4 linked regions of the Homo sapiens genome follow. Changing the gene in region 1 together with any one later gene gives a genetic interaction. Each region holds a gene or a part of one and is shown in the gene's direction. Other genes may lie near its edges.

Evidence for each region. Genes that interact genetically often act in the same process or in processes that back each other up.
Region 2: changes in AURKA (region 1) and PITRM1 together harm fitness more than expected from each alone (negative genetic interaction), as found in Homo sapiens cells (one large-scale study listed by BioGRID).
Region 3: changes in AURKA (region 1) and EMC1 together harm fitness more than expected from each alone (negative genetic interaction), as found in Homo sapiens cells (one large-scale study listed by BioGRID).
Region 4: changes in AURKA (region 1) and MBTPS2 together harm fitness more than expected from each alone (negative genetic interaction), as found in Homo sapiens cells (one large-scale study listed by BioGRID).

What each region holds. Positions count from the first base shown.
Region 1 is NC_000020.11:56,389,416-56,393,394, reverse strand, and holds the start of AURKA (aurora kinase A), read left to right. Parts: upstream 1-1,179; 5' UTR 1,180-1,227; exon of another isoform or gene 1,228-1,604; intron 1,605-2,729; exon of another isoform or gene 2,730-2,839; intron 2,840-3,979. UniProt on the Homo sapiens protein: Mitotic serine/threonine kinase that contributes to the regulation of cell cycle progression.
Region 2 is NC_000010.11:3,139,506-3,141,782, reverse strand, and holds part of PITRM1 (presequence protease, mitochondrial isoform 2 precursor), read left to right. Parts: intron 1-13; exon of another isoform or gene 14-182; intron 183-970; coding exon 971-1,096; intron 1,097-2,277. UniProt on the Homo sapiens protein: Metalloendopeptidase of the mitochondrial matrix that functions in peptide cleavage and degradation rather than in protein processing. Has an ATP-independent activity. Specifically cleaves peptides in the range of 5 to 65 residues.
Region 3 is NC_000001.11:19,234,525-19,238,024, reverse strand, and holds part of EMC1 (ER membrane protein complex subunit 1 isoform 1 precursor), read left to right. Parts: coding exon 1-8; intron 9-786; coding exon 787-883; intron 884-2,772; coding exon 2,773-2,895; intron 2,896-3,500. UniProt on the Homo sapiens protein: Part of the endoplasmic reticulum membrane protein complex (EMC) that enables the energy-independent insertion into endoplasmic reticulum membranes of newly synthesized membrane proteins.
Region 4 is NC_000023.11:21,853,117-21,856,616, forward strand, and holds part of MBTPS2 (membrane-bound transcription factor site-2 protease), read left to right. Parts: intron 1-259; coding exon 260-387; intron 388-2,870; exon of another isoform or gene 2,871-3,368; coding exon of another isoform or gene 3,369-3,500. Other genes in the region: transcription factor YY2, read left to right, coding at 3,369-3,500. UniProt on the Homo sapiens protein: Zinc metalloprotease that mediates intramembrane proteolysis of proteins such as ATF6, ATF6B, SREBF1/SREBP1 and SREBF2/SREBP2.

The sequences.
Region 1 (3,979 bases):
ACTCGAATAATTTCCGTATGCTAGCTCAATGCTTTACATGCACATCCTGTTTACCCTGCAGTAATCTGTTAATTCGTCTTATGTGAATTTAACTCTTAGTCCTAATAAGGTACCTGGAAGGATGGAGGGAAGCCATTTTTGGTTCCCCTACACCACTGTTCTATCCGGTCTCTTCACTTCTGCTGAGCACATCCCGGGTGTACATACACACACACACACACACATATGTGTGTGTATATATATGTATATGTGTGTGTGTGTGTATATATATATATATTTTAAGTGGCCCACCCCTAACTTCTCAACTCCCACAGAACGTTCACTCGCCAGGTAAACAGAAGCCTAATTATCCCCAATTTGCAGGTGAGCACACGAGGACAAGAACCCGATCCAGGACCGGATACATCGCAGTTGGAAAGGCTAGAACACAGATGCCCCCTCACTATATGCGCCGCGACCATCTGGATGCAGAGGCGAACTAAGGACTGGGTGGGAATGGAAGCGAGGCCCTTCGAGAAGAGGAAGGGGTGCAGGCCAAGCCGGGCAACTTAGGAAACGCAAAGTAGAGGCGCATGCCACCTTGCTAACTCTCGACTCTTCCAGTCTCGCCCCAGTCGTTTCTGTGGTTTTCTCTAAATGCCCCAGCCGACCGCACCAGCTACTCTCCCCGTGTCCCAGTACCAGCTGGTCCGGTTCTCTTGGTATCCCGCTCTCTCCTGGAAAAATGGAGGCGCGAATCCTGCCCAATCTACCGCTCCGAGCGCACGTTCACTGCGCACGCTGAAAGGGCGCCAAGCCGACCGCTGCGCTATCGATCGGTCCCACTCTCTCTTGCTTTTCTCGCCATCTTACTTACTGGCACGTTCAAAGGTTAGTTCACCTCCTTGGACTTTATCTCCAATGCGTCAAGCTTGACGTCAAGGGGCTGTTGCTTCACCGATAAATGGCCGACCGCGGAGAGCACCCTGGGGCTGGGACTGCCACAGGTCTGGCTGGCCGTTGGCTCCACCACTTCCGGGTTCTTAGGGAGCAAGTGCGCCTGCGCGCGGTGTGCGCCCTTAAACGCGACTCAAGGCGTCGGGTTTGTTGTCAACCAATCACAAGGCAGCCTCGCTCGAGCGCAGGCCAATCGGCTTTCTAGCTAGAGGGTTTAACTCCTATTTAAAAAGAAGAACCTTTGAATTCTAACGGCTGAGCTCTTGGAAGACTTGGGTCCTTGGGTCGCAGGTGGGAGCCGACGGGTGGGTAGACCGTGGGGGATATCTCAGTGGCGGACGAGGACGGCGGGGACAAGGGGCGGCTGGTCGGAGTGGCGGAGCGTCAAGTCCCCTGTCGGTTCCTCCGTCCCTGAGTGTCCTTGGCGCTGCCTTGTGCCCGCCCAGCGCCTTTGCATCCGCTCCTGGGCACCGAGGCGCCCTGTAGGATACTGCTTGTTACTTATTACAGCTAGAGGTACAAGGGGTTTGTTGAGTGGTGTTGACATGCGCGGGAGGGGTGGGTGGGCTTCAGATTGGATTTTGTCCTCCGAGATCACCTGGGTAAGAAAAGCACAGAAGGTCTCTGCTGTGTTGGAGTTCACGTTCTAGTGGGTGGGGAGACAGACGGTAAGCGTACGGAGAACTTGCAGCTGGGGTGGGTGTTACAGAGGAAAAGCAGGAGTGCGGTTTAACGGGGGCCGCTTTAGATAGAATAGCCTAAGAAGGCCCTTGTCCTGGCTGGATGAGTGGGTGAATTGATGAATGAGAACCTCCTTGCAGAGGCCTTCCCGGTCCGTACTTCTCAGACCGTAGACCTTGGAGCAGTTGTACCGGGATAACTTGCAGTGCTTGTTAAACATATAGCTCCACCGAGAGCCCGGTAAATCAGAATCTCTGAGGGGTAGGACCCAGGTGTCTAGTTATTAACAAACTCTCCAGATGATTCTTAGGTTTCATTGAGAACTAGGGATGCAGACCGGTGCATACAAATCGTCTGGGGACGTTAAAATGCAGAATCTGTTTTTTTAGACCTGGGGTTAGGCCTCAGAGTCTCCATTTCTAAGAACCATCCGGCTGAGGTAGACGTAGCCACTGTCCTTAACTCTCGTAATGTCTCTTCCTCTTCCGTAACCTTCCTTGTCCCTTGAATTAAACGTTTTTCAGCAACCTACTCAGTTCGTCCTTCCCTTCATCTCTGCAGACATGCACAGGTCTGAGGGAGGAAGGAATAAACCGTATAAACCTCCTGCGCTATTAGCCTAACAGCTTTTCTATTCAAAATAGTAGGACTTCTGGTTTGAACTGAATGGATCCTGTGAAAGTCATCTGGTTCTTCAATCTGGTTGCAGATTAGAGTCACCTGAAGGGCAGTCTCCTTGGCGTTGTCTCCAGAATTCTGGATTAGAATCTTATTCCATTCTGCTTGTTATTCAATTTCCCTAGAAAGAAAGGTAGAATAAATTGGAGCAAATGCCTGTAGCTTCTGTCAGAAGAATGTTGAATAAATGTTGTTAGGCCTATGTGATCTCATTAGACTGCTACTTAGAATTGTAAGGGAAGTAAAGCATTAGAGCATGTGTGAAATTAAATATTTGATTAACACAAGTGTGCATTTCCTTGTTGCTGTTTATCAACTTTTACTTACCCACTGTTTTTTTATAAGGGCTGCAGCCTGTAGTCTGGGCCTGGCTTCATCATGGAATTATTTGCTTAATTGTAAAATGGTAATCTTAATTTTTTTTTTTGAGACAGGGTCTCACTCCATTGCCCAGGCCAGAGTGCGGGGATATTTGATAAGAAACTTCAGTGAAGGCCGGGCGCGGTGGCTCATGCCCGTAATCCCAGCATTTTCGGAGGCCGAGGTGGGTGGATCACCTGAGGTCGGGAGTTCCAGACCAGCCCTACCAACATAGAGAAACCCTGTCTCTACTAAAAATACAAAATCAGCTGGGCGTGGTGGTGCATGTCTGTAATCCCAGCTACTCTGGAGGCTGAGGCAGGAGAATTGCTTGAACCCAGGAGGTGGAGGTTGCGGGTGAGCCGAGATTGCGCCATTGCACTCCAGCCTGGGCAACAAGAGCAAACTCTATCTCAAAAAAAAAAAAAAAGAAACCTCAGTGAAATGAAAGACTGAACTACACACCTGGGGGAAAAGCGTAATAAAGGGAGCAAGAAGTGCAAATGCTTATGGCAGGGGACTTATTTGCAGAAAGAAAGCCTTGTGTGGCTGGTACACGGTTGACAAGAAGAGGAGATGAAGTCAGAGAGGTAGTTAGGGTCCATGTTCTGTGAGACTTCAATAGGCCTGTCTATGCAGGTTAGGAGTTTGCATTGTTTTGATTGAGTTGGGAGCCATGGGGGTCTTCTGAACTGAGGATCAACACATCTGATTTGTTAATGAGATTGCCGGCCTCAGTGTTAAGAATGGACCATGACAGGGTAAGGGTGGAAGTGGGGAGGCCATTGGGAGGCTGTTGGAAAAAACTCAAGGGAGAGAGAATAATGGTTTGACCAGGTGGTAGTAGTAGAGGTGGTGAGCAGTGATCTTGAAGGCAGAGCCTACAGAATATGCTGGTGGATTAAATGAAGGGTTTGCGAGAGAGAACCTCGTAAAGGGTTATTATGCCAAGGCTTTTGGCCTGAGCAACTGACAGGATGGGTTTGCCATGCACTGAGATGAGGATGTCTAGAGACTAGATTTGGGGAGGTGAGAGTGGGGAGAGATTAGGACTTCTGTTTGGGACATGTTAGAATGGAGATGCCGCTCAGATAATCAGGTGCAGATGTTGCATAGAAAGTAGAAAATGTAGATCAAGAGTTCAGGGGAGAGGTCTGGGCTGAAGAATGAATATTTGGGAGTCCTCAGCCTGTAGATGGTACTGAAAGCAAAGAGACTGGATGTACTCGGCTAGGGAGTAATTGGAGATGGAGAAGTCATTCTAGGCCTGAGCTCAGGGCACACCCATGAACAGGGAGGTGAGAAGTGGAGAAGGGAAGAGGTT
Region 2 (2,277 bases), on another chromosome or scaffold:
CTTGATTTCCCACCTGGCCTATTTGACTCCCTTCATCCACTTTAGGAAAAGGCCTGTCTGTGGAAGCGGCGACCTGGGGCTGATCTCACCACGGGCGTCTTCAAGGAGCCTGTGTCTGTGCTGCAGACCCTCCCATCATTGTCTGCCCCGCCTTCTGTCGGAGGTGGATGTGTTCTAGAATCAGCTTGAATGTGATGTTACCGTTCACAGTGGAAGGCAGAGGAAATTGGCCCTGTTCCTAGAAATGTGCTTTATCAGAGAGTGTGTGTTTTCTTAAGGGATTCTTATAAAACTCACTTCAGTTTCCTTTCTTTCCATATTCTGATGTGAGACATTTAAATAAATGTTCATTTGCTCATTTGCCTTTATAATAGAAATAACCTCTTTCTACTTCACGAGATTTTAAAAATGCCACATGTGCATTGGAACAAGTTAAGCAGTGTGGTGCTGGAAGTGTTAAGATTCCCTCCCCACCACCTCTCCCTTCAACCCTGTAATCTAAGCCAACTGTTTGAAAATTGTGCTTCCTTGTGCTTTTTAGTTTTGGTTAATTGAAAAGAAAATCTCATGCCTGTAAGCTCAGCACTTTGAAGGCAGGAGGATCACTTGAAGCCAGGTGTTTGAGACCAGCCTGGGCAACAAAGCTAGACCCTGCCTCTACAAAAACTGTAAAAATAGTCAGGCGTGGTGGCACACACCTGTAGGCCCAGCTACTCAGGAGGCTGTTGTGGGAGGATCCCTTGAGCCCAGGAGTTCAAAGCTGCAGTGAGCTGTGATTGCACTAATGCACTCCAGCCTGGCGACAGAGCGAGACCCCATCTCTTAAAAAACAAGACCAAAATATGGGACCATAATTTATGCAGCATTATTTTACAACTCGATTTTCATTTTCACTTAATCCAACAATTACTTCATTGTCTATGCTTTTTTATCAGCCACGGTATTAACTTGCATTTTTTAATCATTTCAGTCTTAAAATCCTTGCACGTTTGATGACTGCCAAATTCTTGCATACAGAAATTCGAGAAAAAGGCGGTGCTTATGGTGGAGGCGCAAAACTCAGCCACAATGGGATTTTCACCCTTTACTCTTACAGGTGAGTTTTGCTCTAGTTCACACATTGGGATGCACACGTCGTTTTAGTCTTCTACTCATGATTATCAGTGTCATTTTCTTCTACTGCAGTGAATTTTAGACAAAAGTTGTTCTGTGTGCTTCTTTTCACTCCTTGGGCACTTAGCCACACCCAGCAATGTCCTTTCTGGCGCGAGGATTAGGGCCAGCAGCCGAAACAGGAAGCATTCTGCCTTCAGTAAACCCTGGCTTCAGCCAGCATATTTTGGCAGAACACGGTAGTGCCTCCATCCGTGGGTTTGCCTTCCATGGTTTATTACCCACAGTCCCCCTCGGTCTGAAAATATTAAATGGAAAATTCCAGACATAAACACTTCCTAAGTTTTAAATTGTACACCATTCTTCTAAGCAGTGGGATGAAAGCTGACGCTGTCTACGGTACCTGCCTGTTGGTCACCCAGTAGCCGTCTAGGTATCAGATACGCTGTGGGTATCCAAGAGCTTCTGTTCACAGAACCCTTGTTTTACTTAATAGTAGCCCATCAGCGTAACTTTTATTACAGTATAATTGTTGTATTTTGTTAATATCTTGCTGCACCTAATCTATAAACTTTATCATAGGTATAGGAAAAAAACATAGTATCCATAGTGGCTGTCTGAGGTTGCAGCCCTGCCGTGGGGGTCCTGAAACACAGGCCCCAGGTGAGGGGGCTGATACAGCCTGAGAGCGTTCTTAGCTCATTTCAGTTGGAGGTGCCTGATGTGGATGCAGTTCTGTTAGCTTTCATAAACATAACACCGTTACTGTAAAGCAATATTCTTGATTTTCTATGGCTTTGCTGCCTAAGAGAACATGTATTCCAACAGTTTTTAAGAAGGAGCCAGCCGGCCGCAGTGGCAAGTGCCTGTGGTCCTAGCTACAGGAGGCTAAGGCGGGAGGATCCCTTGAGCCTGGGGAGGTTGAAACTGCAGTGAGCAGATTGCGCCACTGCACACCAGCCTGGGCGACAGTGAGACCCTGTCCCGTGGATGCATAGCTAGATTAGGTAGGTAGGCAGGCATGTAGGTAGATACGTAGGTAGCCATTGCCACTCTGATGAGTTCTCCCCCTTGCTGTGCTGGAAGCCATGCTTCTAGACAAGGATGGGGAAGCAGCTCACAGCCGCCCCTCTGCAGCTCAGGGTGAAGGGAGGGCTGGGCTCT
Region 3 (3,500 bases), on another chromosome or scaffold:
CTGAGCGGGTAAGGCAGAGCCTTTCTTTGCAGACTGTCCTGTGGGCTTCTCAGCACATGGCTTCCTTTCCTCAGGGCCAGGTCTTAGCCATGGGGCTTGGATTAGGCTCTCTAAACATGTGTTCTAGTGCTCTCTGAGCCACTGACTTGTTAGAAGTCACAGTAAAGGCGGGTATTATTTATGCCAGCTCATCATTGTGCACCAGGGACTGTTCTAAGCTTTTAACTTACACATTAATTGATTTAACCCTCCAAACACTCTCATGAAGCGGTTGTTCCTGACCTGGTTTTAAAATGATTCTGTGGCCTGGTGGGATCGAGTACCATAGCCAGAGTCACGGAGCCAGTAAGAGGTGTCACTGCGGTTCAGATTCAGGTCTAACCCCACAGCCTGGACTCCTCATCACTACCCAGTATTGCCTCTGTGTGCATCTGGTTGTGTTCCTCAGCTGCTTGGGCTGTGGCTTCTTCGTTTCTAAAGCGGAAAGTCTAATCCCGGCCTCCTGCTCACTTTGTGGGGTGTGATTAGAGCATGGATGAATGGCGTGGTACCCGTGGAGTACTCAGGTTCTTCCATGGAAAGGTCTGGGAGACCCCAGCATCATTATGTTGGCTCCTAAGAATATGTATCACTTACTGGCATCCAGATAATAGCTACATTGTTTAGACATCAAATAATGCCATGGCCTGTACCTCTGTTAAGTCCAGGCTTTGACTCCTGGGGTCTGGTGCTCTCAGAGGCATTTGGATCCTCACTGACTACACCGGTCTTGACTGTGGCTTATAGCTGTATATCCAGGTGTTCTTGAAGAAGGATGACTCAGTGGGCTACCGGGCTTTGGTGCAGACAGAGGATCATCTGCTACTTTTCCTGCAGCAGTTGGGTAAGTAGACCTCATTCAACCCATTTTTTTATTTCCCCAGGCCTTCCAATGTGTTCCAATCAGACTGTTTTTTGGGAGGCTGCAGGTTTCTGGAAGAGATTCAAGTGGAGTGTGCCCTGAGTGTTTCGTTCATAGCCAAATGTCACCTGCTTTTTTTTTTTTTTTTTTTTTTTTGAGATAGAGTCTTGCTCTCTTGCCCAGGCTGGAGTGCAGTGGCATGATCTCGGCCCACTGCAATCTCCACCTTTCGGATTCAAGCGATTCTCCTGCCTCAGCCTCCTGAGTAGCTGGGATTACAGGCGTGTGCCACCACGACCAGCTAATTTTTGTATTTTCAGTAGAGACAGGGTTTCCCCATGTTGGCCAGGCTGGTCTCGAATTCCTGACCTCAAGTGATCCGCCTGCCTCGGCCTCCCAAAGTGCTGGGATTACAGGTGTGAGCCACCGTGCCTGGCCTGTCACCTGCTTTTTTTTTTTTTTTTGAGACGGAGTTTTGCTCTTGTTGCTCAGACTGCTGGAGTACAGTGGCATGATCTCAGCTCACTGCAACCTCTGCCTCCCAGGTTTAAGTGATTCTCCTGCCTCAGCCTCCCAAGTAGCTGGGATTACAGGCATGCACCACCACGCCTGGCTAATTTTGTATTTTTAGTAGAGATGGGGTTTCACCATGTTTGTCAGGCTGGTCTCAAACTCCTGACCTCAGGTGATCCACCTGCCTCGGCCTCCCAAAGTGCTGGGATTACAGGTGTGAGCCACCGTGCCTGGCTCTTTTTTTCTTTTTTGAGACAGAGTTTTGCTCTTGTTGCCCAGGCTGGAGTGGAATGGTGTAATCTCAGCTCTTTGCAACTTCTGCCTCCTGGTTCAAGCGATTCTCCTGCCTCAGCCTCCTGAGTAGCTGGGATTATAGGCGCTAATTTTGTATTTTTAGTAAGAGACAGGGTTTCACCATGTTGGCCCAGGCTGGTCTCAAGCTCCTAACCTCAGGTGATCTGCCCGCCTTGGCCTCCCAAAGTGCTGGGATTACAGGCATGAGCCACTATGCCCGGCCCCGTTACCTGCTTTTGAAGAATAACTTGGCATTCTCGGTGGGATACAGAACTTTCCTCCTTTGACCTATTGATTCCAGCCCCTTGCTCTGCCATTTCTCCTTTTATGCAAGAGCTTGTAGTAATCCCTGAGTCAGCGAGAAGAGTCTCTCTAGAAAATCTGGGAGACAGGCTTAGCTTTTGTTTATTTATTTATTTATTTTTTGAGACAAGGTCTCACTGTTGCCCAGTCTGGAGTACAGTGGCGTGATCATAGCTCACTGCAGCCTCAATCTCCCGGGCTCAAGTGATCTTCCTATCTCAGCCTCCTAAGTAGCTGTGACTACAGGCGCTCGCCACCATGCTTGGCTAATTTTTTGATATTTATTTATTTTTATTTTATTTTATTTTATTTCAAGACGGAGTCTCGCTGTGTCGCCCAGGCTGGAGTGCAATGGCACAATCTCGGCTCACTGCAACCTCCACCTCCCGGGTTCACGCCATTCTCCTGCCTCAGCCTCCCGAGTAGCTGGAACTACAGGCGCCCACCATCATGCCTGGCTAATTTTTTGTATTTTTAGTAGAGAGGGGTTTCACCATGTTAGCCAGGATGGTCTCGATCTCCTGACCTCGTGATCTGCCCGCCTTGGCCTCCCAAAGTGCTGGGATTACAGGCGTGAGCCACTGTGCCCAGCCCTGATATTTATTTTTTGTTGAGATAAGGTTTTGCCCTGTTGTCCAGGCTGGTCTCAAATTCCTGGGCTCAAGAGATTCACCCACCTTGGCCTCCCAAAGTGCTGGGATTACAGGCATGAGCCACTGTGCCCAGCCCCAGGCTTAGCTTTGTAAAAATGTTTCCTGTAGCAGGGAAGGTGGTGCTGTGGAGCCGTGAGGAGTCCCTGGCAGAAGTGGTGTGCCTAGAGATGGTGGACCTCCCCCTGACTGGGGCACAGGCCGAGCTGGAAGGAGAATTTGGCAAAAAGGCAGGTATGAACCTAAGAGGTTGGAGCTGCAGAGTTGCTGGAGGGGCCAGTCTGGAAATGACCACAAGAGACACTGTATCATGCATCTCTGGCTTCCTAGGCTGGGCAGATTGCTAGTCTTTTCTGAATGAGCTCTGTGATGAGGTTCCGGTGCATTCATGGCCATATGGTTTATGAAACCATTCTTTTCTGTGAAAGAATGAACTGTGAATCCTTCTAGGGAAAGCTAGGGAAAAATCCCTCTAGGGAAAGCTGAGGGAAAAAAGTCTTTTTTTTTTTCTTTTTTTGAGACAAGAGTCTCGCTCTGTCACCCAGGCTGGAGTGCAGTGGCGCGATCTTGGCTCACTGCAACCTCTGCCTCCCAGGTTCAAGCAGCTCTCCTGCCTCAGCCTCCTGAGTAGCTGGGATTACAGGCATGCGCCACCATGCCCGGTTAATTTTTGTATTTTTAGTAGCAACAGGGTTTCAGCATGTTGGTCAGGCTGGTCTCAAACTCCTGACCTCATGATCTGCCAGCTTTGGCCTCCCAAAGTGTTGGGGATTACAGGCGTGAGCTGCTGCGCCTGGGGGGAATAAAGTCTTAACTTGGTATTGTAATAGCTACCATTG
Region 4 (3,500 bases), on another chromosome or scaffold:
TTCTAAAAATTTTGAAGTTATGTCTATTTCAGTATGCCCTATTTTGCAAAATTCAATTTCACAGATAACCAAATCTGTACATTATTATAAAATTAAGATTATATATAGTATAGATATAATTTTTTTGGCTGTTCAGAGAGACTTTCTGTTTTTTAAGCAAGAATTCAAATTACAGTGAAAAGTTTTAAGATTATGTACACTATTAATTTGATAAATATAATAGTATTAGTAAACTCCTTTTTCTTATGTGATTTCTTAGGGAACAAGTTCGATTTAATGGCTTTGGGATTTTTCTCTTCATTATTTATCCTGGAGCATTTGTTGATCTGTTCACCACTCATTTGCAACTTATATCGCCAGTCCAGCAGCTAAGGATATTTTGTGCAGGTAACAGACTTAATTTTGTTTTAATATTCATCTGTGGTTTTGGTTTTGATTTTCTATGGTTAGTGCTTTTTGGAAAATATATCACAAATGACAATATCTTATCTTTTGGTTAATAACTTCAGTTTATAAGACCCCTTCAAAAGTAGAGGAGTAAAATAATTTACATTCCAGTTGCTTCCTTAAAACCAACTAAAAACAACATAATTTTAAAAAATTTAAAAACAGAGGAAAACTTTGTTTTGTCCACAACATGAAATCACAAACTATGAAGAATGTCAACTCAGCTGAAATAGAATGAAATTTGCATCAAATCAAGGGAGAATATGAAGAATTGACTAAGAGATAAATCAAAAGTATCCAGGAATGGAAAAAAAGGGTTATGAAAGGATGAGTAGTGAACTCTAGCACTGTCAGAGTTCAATCAGAGAAACAGAATCCCTTGGAGATGGAACCACAGTTCCAGCTGAGTGAAACTGACATACGACAAATCCATCACAACCCTGCATCACTTTTAATGGAATAACTGAGGCTAAGCAAGTGTGGAGTTAGAATTCTCAAACTAACAACGACAACAACAACAAAAAAAACCTGAAGGTGGGAAAAACAAAAACGGGAAATATAAATACTAATTTCCTCAACTTCATAGTGGAGAGGACATCTGCCTGAACCTGATAAATCAAGAAATAGAGGCTTGAGTATATCACTTAAGATTATAAATGTAAATACTACAAGATCTAAAAACACACATAAACTTTTCAAGTTATCACAGTGAAAGCATGAAACACAGACCAAAGAAAACAGACCCTATATCAAAAGATAAACCATGGTAATGAATTTAAGACCAAAACACATTTATTTTGTCAATAAACATAAATGAAATAAGCTCACCTACTGAAAGAAAGATGCCCTTAGTTTGTATTTAAAACATGTCCCAAATATGTGATGTACAAAATAAATCTGTGTAAATAATTACTCAAAAATAATGAAAGTAAAATGATGAGCAGAACATAACATGCAAATGGGAACAGAAAATAAGACCAAAAGCATTATATTAGACATTGGGGGCCATTTAACAATAATAAGGAATATAAGCCACAATGAAAATATAACAGTTGTGAATCTTACTGTATCAAGTAACAAACCATCAAAGCAAAACAAAAATGGGAAAAGTATAAGAAGAAACAGGTAATAAAAAGACTCACGCTTTAATACATGGCAGATAAGTATAAAAAAGTTAGGCTAAGGTAAAAATAGGTATGTCAAACTCTATACCGTGAACACAGAAGACAATATTTTTTCAAGTGCCCATGGGACTTAAAGTCACAGTAAATTCCCAAGAGAAGACTAGCAAACTAAGTAAAAACTACCTGAAATTTAGAAATTTATCTTAATCACACCTTGGATCAATTTAATTCAAACCTGTGATTTCAGTAGATCTAAAAATTATGATGATGAAATCATTTTACTGAGATAATGTTTAAAGTTTTGCTAAAAGAAAAATGCACTGCCTTAGGCAGTCATGCAAATACAAATGGAAATAGATTAGTTGAGTATTAAACTTAAGTGAGAAAAGAACTGTAAAATAATTAAGAAATGATGACGTAATTAGTAAGGATATAGGCAGAAAATAATAAATTAGAAAAAACAAAACTAGATCTGCTAAATCCAAGAGCTCTTAAAAAAAAATCAAAGGTCGAACAATGAGAAAAAGCATCTAAAGACAATTAGCAATCAGATTGGGGAATGACAATTGATAACAGAGAAAATAAAAACAATTATAAGTGTTGTTTGCTCATCTCCACAAAAAAAATTTCAAAACCCTGTATAAATATAAGAAAATAAAAATAGCTGAAATTAACCCAAGAGGCAATCAAAAAAATCTAAATAGGCAAATAATTACAATGGGAGAAATTAAGAAAGTTGATAAAGAACGCCCTTTTTCTTTTGAGATGGAGTCTCGCTGTGTTGCCCAGGCTGTAGTGCAGCGGCATGATCTAGGCTCACTGCAACCTCTGCCTCCCAGGTTGAAGCGATTCTCCTGCCTCAGCCTCCCGAGTAGCTAGGATTACAGGCACGAGCCACCACGCCCAGCTAATTTTTGTATTTTTAGTAGAGAAGGGGTTTTGCCATGTTGGCTAGGCTGGTCTCAAACTCCTGACCTCAAGTGACCCTCCTGCCTCGGCCTCCCAAAGTGCTGGGATTACAGGTGTGGGATTGCTGTGCCCGGCCCAGCTACTCTGGAGGCTGAAGCAGGAGAATCACTCGAACCCAGGAGGCGGAGGTTGCAGTGAGCCGAGATCGCGCGCCACTGCACTCCAGCCTGGGCGACGGAGCGAGACTCCGTCTCAAAAAAAAAAAAAAATCCTTAGTAAAAGTAGGAATAGCTGCATACATCATAATAGCACAACACTTTGCATTCCTATTAAAGGACAAGACAAATTCTACTATCAACTATTACTGATATTAAATGTCGTATTAGTGCAATTAAATAAGAGAAAAAAGCATAAAAGGAGTAGGCTTTTTTGGCAGATACTGTTATATGGGATGGACAGGAGGGGAAGACATGAAAATCAACTAAAATGAAATACATAAAAAATCAGTAAAGAGCCTGCTTACGAAAGTGGAAAAACAACAGCTGGGCGGGGTCGCAGGGTGGCAAACGTACGCGGGCACGTGCACGTGCTTTTGGGGCCGACAGACGCGCCAGTTGCCTAGGCGCATGCGTCTGGCTATCCCAGAAGCACCTGCGCCTTCCGGCTCGTGCTTTCCTCAGTCTCGCGCCTTTCTCTGCAGCTCGCGCCTTTCTCTGCAGCTCGCGCCTTTCTCTGCAGCTCGCGCCTTTCTCTGCAGCTCGCGCCTTTCTCTGCAGCTCGCCCCTTCCTCTGCAGCTCGCCCCTTCCTCTGCAGCTCCCACCTCACTCCCCTCAGCGTTCTTTTTCCCACGGTCTTCCCGTTGCCGCTAACCTAACTAACTCTCAGCCATGGCCTCCAACGAAGATTTCTCCATCACACAAGACCTGGAGATCCCGGCAGATATTGTGGAGCTCCACGACATCAATGTGGAGCCCCTTCCTATGGAGGACATTCCGACGGAAAGCGTCCAGTACGAGGAT